2 separate regions of the Homo sapiens genome follow, and region 2 is linked to region 1. Evidence: fine-mapped expression QTL. A gene starts in region 1. The other region holds a variant in brackets. All regions are shown on one strand. Distances are between the middles of the regions.

Evidence for each region.
Region 2: its variant is fine-mapped to the expression of ZNF821 in whole blood (INTERVAL, PIP 0.98).

Annotation. Positions count from the first base shown.
Region 1 is chr16:71,881,093-71,886,468 of GRCh38, forward strand. It overlaps ZNF821 (zinc finger protein 821), which reads right to left and starts at 3,090. Exons shown (of 8, transcript NM_001201552.2): 1 at 2,816-3,090; 2 at 2,119-2,181. RefSeq lists enhancers at 1,916-2,115, 3,956-4,456 and silencers at 2,476-2,595, 2,616-3,375.
Region 2 is chr16:71,826,428-71,831,803 of GRCh38, forward strand. No RefSeq gene overlaps it. Among named protein-coding and RNA genes, the nearest start is that of ATXN1L, 17 kb to the right of the region's middle. The variant C/CT (reference allele first, on the strand shown) is at 2,247.

The DNA of each region.
Region 1 (5,376 bases):
CACACTCTTAAGTTTTCTTTCAGTTCCTGCCTTCTTGAGTTATACTCACATTGAATAAGCAAACATAAAATCATAGTTTATTGCCTTAAGAGGAGTTATGGGAGACTACTGCTAGCTATATTTTGTACTCCAGTTAATGAAGACTCACCTCCTGTTATGCCAACTAACTCCTCTATGTAGCTAGAAGGACCTCAAACCTATAATCAGATCCTGCCTCCCCTTACCAAAAGAATAAAGAAACCGCAAATGGCAAAGACAGGCCTCCACAGGAAGTGGCAAAGGAAGCAGCTTTCAGGCAGTCTTCTAGCATATCTGCATATCAAACACAGTTCTTTTTCAGACCTTTAATTAAAAACAAAACAAAACAAAACTCTAAATGTATACAATAAAAATCAATTTAAACTATTTAGAGGGCAATATACTGAGTGCTGATAGTGTATGTTCTCTAAGTTTTGTGTATGTCATTTTTTTCTAATCAAGTAGTTGTTTTATTCACGGAAGCAGTGAATGAATATCACACTTTGGATTTCCTATATGTGTGTGGAATCACCAAGTGGAAAGGTAATGAAATGCAGGCTCTATTAATATTTTTAAAAATATGGCCAGGCACCGTGGCTCACGCCTGTAATCCCAACACTTTGGGAGGCCAAGGCAGGCAGATCACTTGAGGCCAGGAGTTTGAGACCAGCCTGGCCAATATGGGGAAACCTCTAATAAAAATACAAAAATTAGCTGGGCATGGTGGTGCACACCTGTAAATTCCAGCTACTCGGGAAGCTGAGGCATGAGAATCGCTTGAACCTGGGGAGGGGAGGTTGCAGTGAGCTGGGATGGAGGCACTACACTGCAGCTTGGGCAACAGAGTGAGACTCCATCTCAAAAAAAGATAAAAAACTGCCATGGGCGGTGGCTCTCGCCTGTAATCCCAGCACTTTGGGAGGCTGAGGCGGGTGGATCACCTGAGGTCGGGAGTTTGAGAACAGCCTGGCCAACATGGTGAAACCCCGTCTGTACTAAAAATACAAAAACTAGCTGGGCGTGGTGATGCATGTCTGTAATCTCAGCTACTCAGGAGGTTGAGGCAGGGAATTGCTTGAACCCGGGAGGCGGAGGTTGCAGTGAGCCAAGAACGCACCACTGCACTCCAGCCTGGGCGACAGAACGAGACTCCGTCTCAAAAAAAAAAAAAAAAGATAAATAAAAATTTAAAAAAATAAAATATACTCCTCTAATGTGATAATCTATTGAGGCTAAATATATATATACTCTATTATAGAAGAAAAAACAGAATCTTGACTAATTTTTATATTTTCTCCCTTCAAGATCAGAAACTGAAACTGTAAGATAAAGGTAATAAAGTCCCTTCTGAAGGAAGGCCAAATAATTTGAACCAGACAACATTTCAATATTAAAGCTCCAAGTCAAAAGACAGAGATGAGTGTCTGCGTATTTAAATCAGCAATGCCCGCTGCATCTTATAATCCTCCTAGTGGCCAAATGGGGAACTGACCAGATGGTACCCAATGGGACTTCACACCTGAGTGATCAAGAGAAAAATAAGCAATTACAGTCCCCTCCCACACAACGAAACGAAAATAATAACAAAAACACCCACAAAAACAGGCCTGTGGGGTCATGGGCTGTTGAAAATCAATAAGTAAATAAATAAATGGCGCTGAAAGGACACTCTTGACCACAAAGCAAGATCTCAGAGGCCAGATGACTTGTTTTATAGGCAGTTAAAGCTAATAAAACCCAGAGACATACAGCCCTAAAGGTCACTCATTTTGTTTTACTTTTAACACTGCCTCAATTTCCAAGCCAAAACCTGAAACCAAACCAAACCAAAAATGTAAATAGATAGCTGCCTGAACATGGGCTGGGAAGACAGGTAAACGGTGAGATTCAGGTCTAAAGGGATTCCATTTTAAAAGGAAAGCAGTTCTGTCTGTCTTCAGAGCAAGGTTAAGAGTCCTCGGGAAGGTGCAACGTCTCCCCTGAACACTGTCTCTGCTCTCCCACAGGTATTAGGTTGCAGCGTCTAGGGCACACCACAGACTTTGGCAAGAAAAAAAACGAGTGAAATCTCAGCTTGATGAAAAGAGAGTGCGTTCCCACCTCCAGCTCTGGTGCAGTTCCCACGGAGCAAAGCAAACTCGACTGAATCCAAGTGATCTGTATCTGCCAAAAAGGAGAGGACAAGAAAGCTGGTCACTTAGCCGCCTGGCTGTTCACCTGACCCCTGGGGTTGGGTCTGGGGCGTGTCTAATCAGCCGAGATGGTCCCTCTGCTTCTTCAAGCATGAGCCCAGGTAAATTCCCAGGAATTACCAGACAAGAGCCTGACAAGAGCCGGAGGTCTTCCGAGGCGGCTCAGACAAACCCTTAGACAACACAATCTCCGAAATCTAAATTTAGAAGCTTTTCTGCGAGACCCAGACGCGGGGACTGATACCCCCCGGTCTGCACGCCCACGCCCATCCTCCCCTCCCCCAGCTCCACCCAAGGCTGTCAGACGCCGGGGCCGTCCCCGCCGGGGCCCGAGGAGGCGGGGTGCCCGCGGCCCGCGCAAAAGCCCCCCGGCCCCGCACCCCGCGCCCCGCGCCCGAGAGCGCCAAGGGGCAGCAGGAGGAGCGGCCGGGGAGGAATTGGGGTTGGAAGCGGGGAGGGTGAGCCCGGGCTGCCCCCCTAGGCCGGAGCTGGCCCCCGGCCCTCTCCCCAGTGCAGACAAAAGGACCAACAGCCGGCGGCCGCGAGGGGGCGAGGAGCCCGCATCCCCAGCCCGGACCCGGAGGGAGGGCAGGGGGTCTTTTTACCCGGCGCCTCGGCGCTGCGCTGCGCTCTGGGTCCCTGGGCCCCGCCTCCGGACAGACGGACCGCCGGACAATGGACCCGGGACCGCAGCCCAAGCCAGCCGGGCCGGGGCGCTCCGGGACTGGGCCCCGGCGAGCGGAAGGGGCTCCGGGCCGAGCCGAGCCGGTGGCGGGGAGCCGAGGGGCGGCGCTGCAGACGGACAAAGCCAACAGCAGACAGACAGACGGAGGGGGAAAAAGATGGCGACGCGGGCGGCGGGAGCGCGCGGCTCGCGCACCCGCAGCTAGTGAGGCGCGTGCACGAGCCTCCCTCTCCCCCTCCCCCGCGCCGGCCAGGTCCCCTTCCCCGCGGCCCGGCGCGCGCCTGGCGTTGTGGGCGGGGCCTGAGGAGAGGGGCTCTGGAGAGGAGGGGCTCCGGGGAGCGCCCAATCCCGGGCGCCCGAGAGGGGCTCGCCCGCGTTCCAGGGCTCCGGAACCCCCCGCCTCGCCCATTCCCGGGTCTTTCTCTGGCTGTCTCAGCCGCTCAGCTCCCCCAGACCTTCCTGGACGTGTAAACGCCACCCTACCCAGCCCCGATCCTGGTTTCTTACCCCACCATCGAGTTCAGCCACAAAACCCACAACCCCCAACCACAGCTCCGCCGCAGGCACCCCCTCTCCTTAGCCCGGATCCCCACCACCGTCACAAACCCTCTTCGCCTCATTCCCCCACGCTTCGCGGTGGCTTCGGCTCCCGAGGCTTTGAATGTGACCACGGGCCTTGGTGGGAGGGGCCAAGTTCAGCTGTCAGAACCTCAGAGCTGGGAAATCTTGAGATTTCTTTTGAGTATTTAATTTTCTGACATGATTCTCAACTGATAAAATAACATTGGCTGCAGACCCAGGGGCAGGGGAACTTGTGGCACTGTTGTCACTTGAGGGATGTTTGGGGGCAATGGAGAGCCGTTGGACCTTTTTTTTTTTTTTTTTTTTGAGACAGAGTCTCGCTCTGTCACCCAGGCTGCAATGCAATGGCGCGATCTTCGCTCACTGCAACCTGCGCCTCCCAGGTTCAAGCGATTCTCGTGCTTCAGCCTCCCGAGTAGCTGGGACTACAGGCGTGCACCACCACGCCCAGCTAATTTTTGTATTTTTAGTAGACGGGGTTTCACCATGTTGGCCAGGCTGGTCCCGAACTCCTGACCTCAGGTGATCCTCCCGCCTCGGCCTCTCAAAGTGCTGGGATTACAGGCGTAAGCCACTGTGCCCGGCCTGGTTGGACGCACTTCTAGTCAAACACCTCCTCCTGTCCACGTCCTTCTCTCTCCTAGTTCCTGTTGCCTTCTTTTCTTCCTCTCTTCTAGAATGCCTGAGCCTGCCCTGGCATCGCTTACCTGGAGAAGCAGGGAATGCAGAGGAAAGAAGATGAGATCTGGTATTAGAAGATCTGGCTTTGAGCCCCAGCTCTGCCACCCACCAGCCTGTTGACTTTGGGCAAGTCACTTCCCTGTTCTGAGCCTCTGCTTCCTAAGATGTCAAATGGATAATGATGCAATAATTCCTGGCCTTTACTCTCCGAGGGTTGTTGTGCCAGTTAAGTAAAACAAATGGCTAAAAGCATCATGCAAATGTTTTTCGTGATTACTGGCTGCACAAAGGCAGGGCTAACGAGGATGCTGTCATTTGCTGATAAAGTGACAAGTCCTGGTATTTGCATAGAACATTCTTGCAAATTGTCTTTCCCCTAAATCTTTTATGAGATGATCTCATTGTCTGCATCTTGTGTTCAATGTAATAGAATGATTACATTGAGGGATCTTGGTCCTTCACAATTCTGTGATAAATAGCTCATTCATCATTCACTCATTTATTTATTGTGATTAGGATACTTAGATAGCAATTATTGTTGTTTAACTTCAGTCAAGGAAACATTTTAATTTCATTTAAAAACTTAGTTTCCAAGTAGACAGAAAATGGAATATTATCATCCAACCCGCAAGTGTTTGTACTATTTTGTGTAAGAATACAACCTAGAATACACACTGGCTTTTATATTTAACAGTAATTCTTGATCAGTTTGGACTGAGGGATACAAGTATGGCTTTATTATGTCACTTTAAAGCTGACTTAGTTGACATTTTCAACAGAAAAGTAGCAAACAGGTAAAGTTTGCCTCCAGTGAAATTTCTTGGATGCATTATTATTATGTAATGTTGGGCAGCTTATTCCATCTCCTTGACTTCCAAATAAAATGAGATGATAATAATGCTATTCTTATGACTTCCCTGTGCTCTAAAAATTTCTCAGAGGTGTTGTGATTCAAGGTTACAACCAAATAATGAAAAAATTATTAAATACGTAATTAGTTTAAGTTAGGCATGGTGGCTGGCACCTATAGTCCCAGCTACTCAGGAGGCTGAGATGGTATGATGACTTGAGCCCAAGTGTTTGAGGCCAGCTTGGGCCACATAGTGAAACCCTTGTCTCTTTAAAAAAGAAGAATTAATTTATTTTTCCTCTGCTTTCACCTAAACTTGTTCTACATCTAGAAGACCTTTTAATTAACCATATATATTTTTTTAGCTT
Region 2 (5,376 bases), 55 kb before region 1:
CTCTCTCTTTCCATGCCTATGTTTTCAGTACCTATGAGGTTAGACACTAGCACACAAACAGTTAAGAGCTAACTGTAAATACGAATAGATAGGTCTACAAGAAAGTTTATTAAACTTTAGCAGTGGTAAACTCCAGATTTATTCATTCATTTGACAAAATGAACAGACAGGAACAGGGCTGGGGATGCAACTGTGACAAAAGTCCCTGCCCTCATGGAGCTGACATTCTAGTGGGGGAGACGAATAATCAACACGATCACTAAGTGAACTATGCAAGATGTGAGCTAGAGATAAGTGCTACAGAGGAAAAAAAAAATAGCAGAGAAGAGGGAGGAGGTTGACATTTTAGAGAAGATAGCCAGGGAGGGCCTCACAGAGAAGAGAACATTTAAGTATAGACTTCCAGGAAGTAAGGGAGGAACGAGGCAGATATCTAGAGAACACAGAATACCGGAAGGAGATACAAAGGCCCTGACGTTGGAATGTTCTTGGGCATTTGAAGAAGCATAAAGTGGCCAGTGTGGCTAAGGCAGAGTAAACAAGGAGGAAGGTTGGGGGGAATGAAGTCAGAGTGATGGGGAGGGAAGGTATGGGTTGTGGGAAAGACTTTGCCTATTATTCTAAGTGAAATATGGCCAAGTGTGGTGGCTCACGTCTGTAATGCCAGCACTTTGGGAGGTGGAGATGGGTGGATCACTTGAGGTCAGGAGTTCGAGACCAGCCTGGCCAACATGGTGAAACCCCATCTCTACCAAAAATATAAAAAATTAGCTGGGTGTGGTGGCAGTCGCCTGTAATCCCAGCTACTCAGGAGGCTGAGGCAGGAGAATTGCTTGAACCCAGGAGGCAGAGGTTGCAGTGAGCTGAAATTGAGCCACTGCACTCCAGTGTGGGTGACAGAGTGAGACTCTATCTCAAAGAAAAAAAAAAAGAAATGAAAAGGCACTGGAGGCCAGGTGCAGTGGCTCATGTCTGTAACCCCAGCACTTTGGGAGGCCGAGACAGGTGGATCACTTGAGGTCAGGAGTTGAAGACCGCCTGGCCAACATGGTGAAACCCTGTCTTTACTAAAAATAAAAAAATCAGCTGGGCGAGGTGGCGTGTGCCTGTAATTCCTGCTATTTGGGAGGCTGAGGCACGAGAATCACTTGAACCCAGGAGGCAAAGGTTGCAGTGAGCCAAGATTGCACCACTGCACTCCAGCCTGGATGGGTAGGGGTTGAGAGAAAGGGAAGAATCAAGGAAGATATGAGTATTTTTGTCGTAGCATAGAATTACCATTAACGGTAGAATAGGTAGATATTTTGGAAGGGGTGAGAGCACTTTGGGACGTGTTAAGTTGGTGATGTCTATGAAACACTCAAGTGAAGATGTCAAGAAGGCAGGAGGATATATGAACCTGGAGCTCATATAAACTGAGAAGCCTTAGGTAATGCTATACATGTAGAAGCCCCCACCATAAAGAAGGTATTGAAAAACATGTGGTTGGATGAAGTCAGCTCAAGAGTTGGGAAGAGGTCCAAAGACTAAGCCCTTGAGCACATCTCTAGTGGCATTTCATATGTCTTTTACTGCTTTAAAGTCCCTTTCTGTATTGTTTAAATGTATACAATGTGTCATTTTTCAAAAAGCTATATAATTCTTTGGAAGAGAACAAGAGTAAAAGAATCCCTATCAGGAAACCATCATCAGCAAAGATAAATGTGCCCCATTCTCTGGAATCCAACATGATACATCCAGCAATCTGAAAGCAGAGCAGTGGGAACACAGGAGATGGAACAGACTTTTTGCTTCATGCCTGCACTAAGCAGAAGTTTGGCACCCAAGTATGAAGCCATCCTTTATAAAGAAGTCACCAGAGACAGCTTAATCAATCACTAAAACAAGTAGCTCCCTACATGGAATGATGTGAGATGCATTAGGGGAAAATCTCTCTTGTCCTAAGACAGTTCATGACCATCTTCTGGAAGCTTAATTCACCCCCATGATAATGATTACAATGAAAAAAAAGCAAAAGCAAAATTTGATTACATTTGTTATGTTCCAGGCATTGCATTTAAGTTCCTTATGTGTATTAGCTAATTGAGTCATCTCAACAAACTTATGAGTTAGGAAATATTATTATCCCCAACCCAGAAAACTGAGTTGTTGACACTTGGCCTGAGGTCTCACAGTTAATATATGGTGGAGCAAGGATTTGAATATGTATCGTTTCACTCCTGAACCCATACTCTTCTTTCTTTTTT[C/CT]TTTTTTTTTTTTTTAGAAGGAGTTCCGCTCTTGTTGCCCAGGCTGGAGTGCAATGGTGTGATCTCAGCTCACCATAACCTCTGCCTCCTGGGTTCAAGCGATTCTCCTGCCTCAGCCTCCCAAGTAGCCGGAATTACAGGCATGCGCCACCATGCCCAGCTAATTTTTTTTTTTTTGTATTTTTATTAGAGGATGGGGGAGAAAAGAACTAAAAATGTTTCACACACTTCTGGATATAACACTTTTAGGTACCTTCGTTTTTTTGTTTTCTACTCTATTGTTAACCACTTATAAGGGTCTGTTAGGAATAGTATGTGGGCAGAGAAAAAGTACAAATTTTACCTGCTTTACAATTCTTCCAGAGCTACTCTAGAAGCCACATGACTAAGTAGAAAAAAATCTTTCAGTGCACAATAAAAACCTCAGCTTTAAGTCAATTTTCCCATCTTAAAAGTACTTACCATGGGCCGGACATGGTGGCTCACACCTGTAATCCCAGCACTTTGGGAGGCCAAGGAGGGTGGATCACAAGGTCAGGGGATCAAGACCATCCTGGCCAATATGGTGAAACCTCATCTCTACTAAAAATACAAATATTAGCTGGGCATGGTGGTGCACGCCTGTAATCCCAGCTACTCGGGAGGCTGAGGCAGGAGAATCACTTGAACCCGGGAGGTGGAGGTTGCAGTGAGCCAAGATCATGCCATTGCACTCCAGCCTGGGGGACAAGAGCAAAATTCCGTCTCAAAAAAAAAAAAAAAAAAAAAGTGTAAGGATAGAAAAAAAATCATACGGTAAGGTTGCAAAGAGCAAAGATCTATGGGTAGCATGAATCTTTTTTTTTTTTTTCTTTTTTTTTGAGACAGGGTCTCGCTGTCACCCAGGCTGAAGTTCAGTGGCAGGACCTCGGCTTTCTGCAACCTCTGCCTCCCAGGCTTAAGGTATCCTCCCACCTCAGCCTCCTGAGTAGCTGAGACTACAGGCACGTGCCACCACAGCTGGCTAATATTTTAAAAATTAATTTTTGGTAGAGACAGGGTTTAGGTTTCACCATGTTGCCCAGGCTGGTCTCTAACTCCTGGGCTCAAGCGATCCACCTGCCTGGCCTCCCAAAATGCTAGGGTTACAGGTGTCAGCTACCATGCTCAGCCAAGAACAAATCTTCTATTTGTGAAATTGTGAAGAAGGAAAAAGAAATTCATGCTAGTTTGCCTGTCGCAGCTCAAACAAACTGCAAAACTTTTGGTCGTAGAGCGTGATAAATGCTTAGTGAGGATGGAAAAAGCCTTAATTTTGGGGGTGGGAAACATGTACAGAAACTTACTCAGGTTTGGTATTATCTGCAGTTTCAGGCATCCAATGGGGGTTTTGGTAGTGTTCCCCACGGATAAGCAGGGACTACTGTATATTTTTTTTAGATGATGTATAATTTAGCAACAAAAAGGGGCCTTGCTTGTGAATGTATAAGACAGCCCTATTCCAGAGTTAGAGAACTTCAAACCAAGCAGAATATGAGGAAGAAAGTGAACATAAGAAAAGGCCGGGCGTGGTGGCTCACGCCTGTAATCTCGGCACTTTGGGAGGCCGAGGTGGGTGGATCACCTAAGGCTAGGATTTCAAGACCAGTCTGGCCAACATGGCGAGACCCTGTTTCTACTAAAAATACAGCAGTGAGCTGAGATCGCACCACTGCACTCCAGCCTGGGCTACAGAGCAAGACTCTGTCTCAAAAAAAATCCAAACTTTGAATCAACAGTTCTGATTTTGTGATAAGTATTTGAATTATGTCAAGGGTGACAGTAAATATATTCAAGAACCAGTACTACATGGCACTAACCAATCAGAATGGACACCCTGAATGACAAAAAATGTCCACCAGCCTGAAGCAACTGCTGTGGCCAGGTCTCTGTGTTCCATTGAATGTCAGTTTTGAATTATGTAAATGTGGTCATGATGTCAGATGTTCAAAAGTCGAAACTTCTAAATTTCATTAGCTTCCTTTATATTACTAAGCCAGTTACATTTAGTCAAATATGTACTTTCTTTTTTTTCTTTTTTTTTTTTCCTGAGATGGAATCTCGCTCTGTCCTCCAGGCTGGAGTGCAGTGGTATGATCTCAGCTCACTGCAACCTCCACCTTCCAGGTTCAAGCGATTCTCCTGCCTCGGCCTTCTGAGTAGCTAGGATTACAGGCATGCACCACCACGCCTGGCTAATTTTTGTAGTTTTAGTAGAGACGGGGTTTCACCATGTTGGCCAGGATGGTCTCTATCTCTTGACCTCGTGATCCACCTGCCTCAGCCTCCCAAAGTGCTGGGATTACAGGCGTGAGCCACTGCACCCGGCCAATGTGTACTTTCTTAAAAAAGAAATCAGCTCAGTTTTCTTGGCTTTAGCTTTTTTTTTTTTTTTTTTTTTTTTTTTTGAGACAGAGTCTCACTCTGTTGCCCAGGCTGGAGTGCAATGGCACAATCTCGGCTCACTGCAACCTGCACCTCCCGGGTTCAAGCGATTCTCCTGCCTCAGCCTCCTGAGTAGCTGGGATTACAGGCGCCTGCCACCACGTCCAGCTAATTTTTTGTATTTTTATTTTATTTATTTACGTATTTATTTATTTTTGAGCCGGAGTCTCGCTCTGTTGCCCAGGCTGGAGTGCAGTGGCACGATCTCCCCTCACTGCAAGCTCCGCCTCCCAGGTTCATGCCATTCTCCTGCCTCAGCCTCCCGAGTAGCTGAGACTACAGGCACCCGCCACCACGCCTGGCTAATTTTTTTGTATTTTTAGTAGAGATGGGGTTTCACCATGTTCGCCAGGATGGTCTCGATCTCCTCACCTCGTGATCCACCTGCCTCGGCCTCCCAAAGTGCTGGGATTACAGGTGTGAGCCACTGCGCCCGGCCCAATTTTTTGTATTTTTAATAGAGATGGGGTTTCATCATGTTGGCCAGGCTGGTCTTGAACTCCTGACCTCAAGTGATCCTCCCACCTCAGCCTCCTAAAGTGCTGGGATTACAGGCGTGAGCCACCATGCCTGGTGGCATTAGCTTTTTTATAAAGTTCAATTCTCTAGTTTGAGACCTTTATCCAAGTTGCTTTGCCTCCAATGCAAAACTTATTTCTATACATTT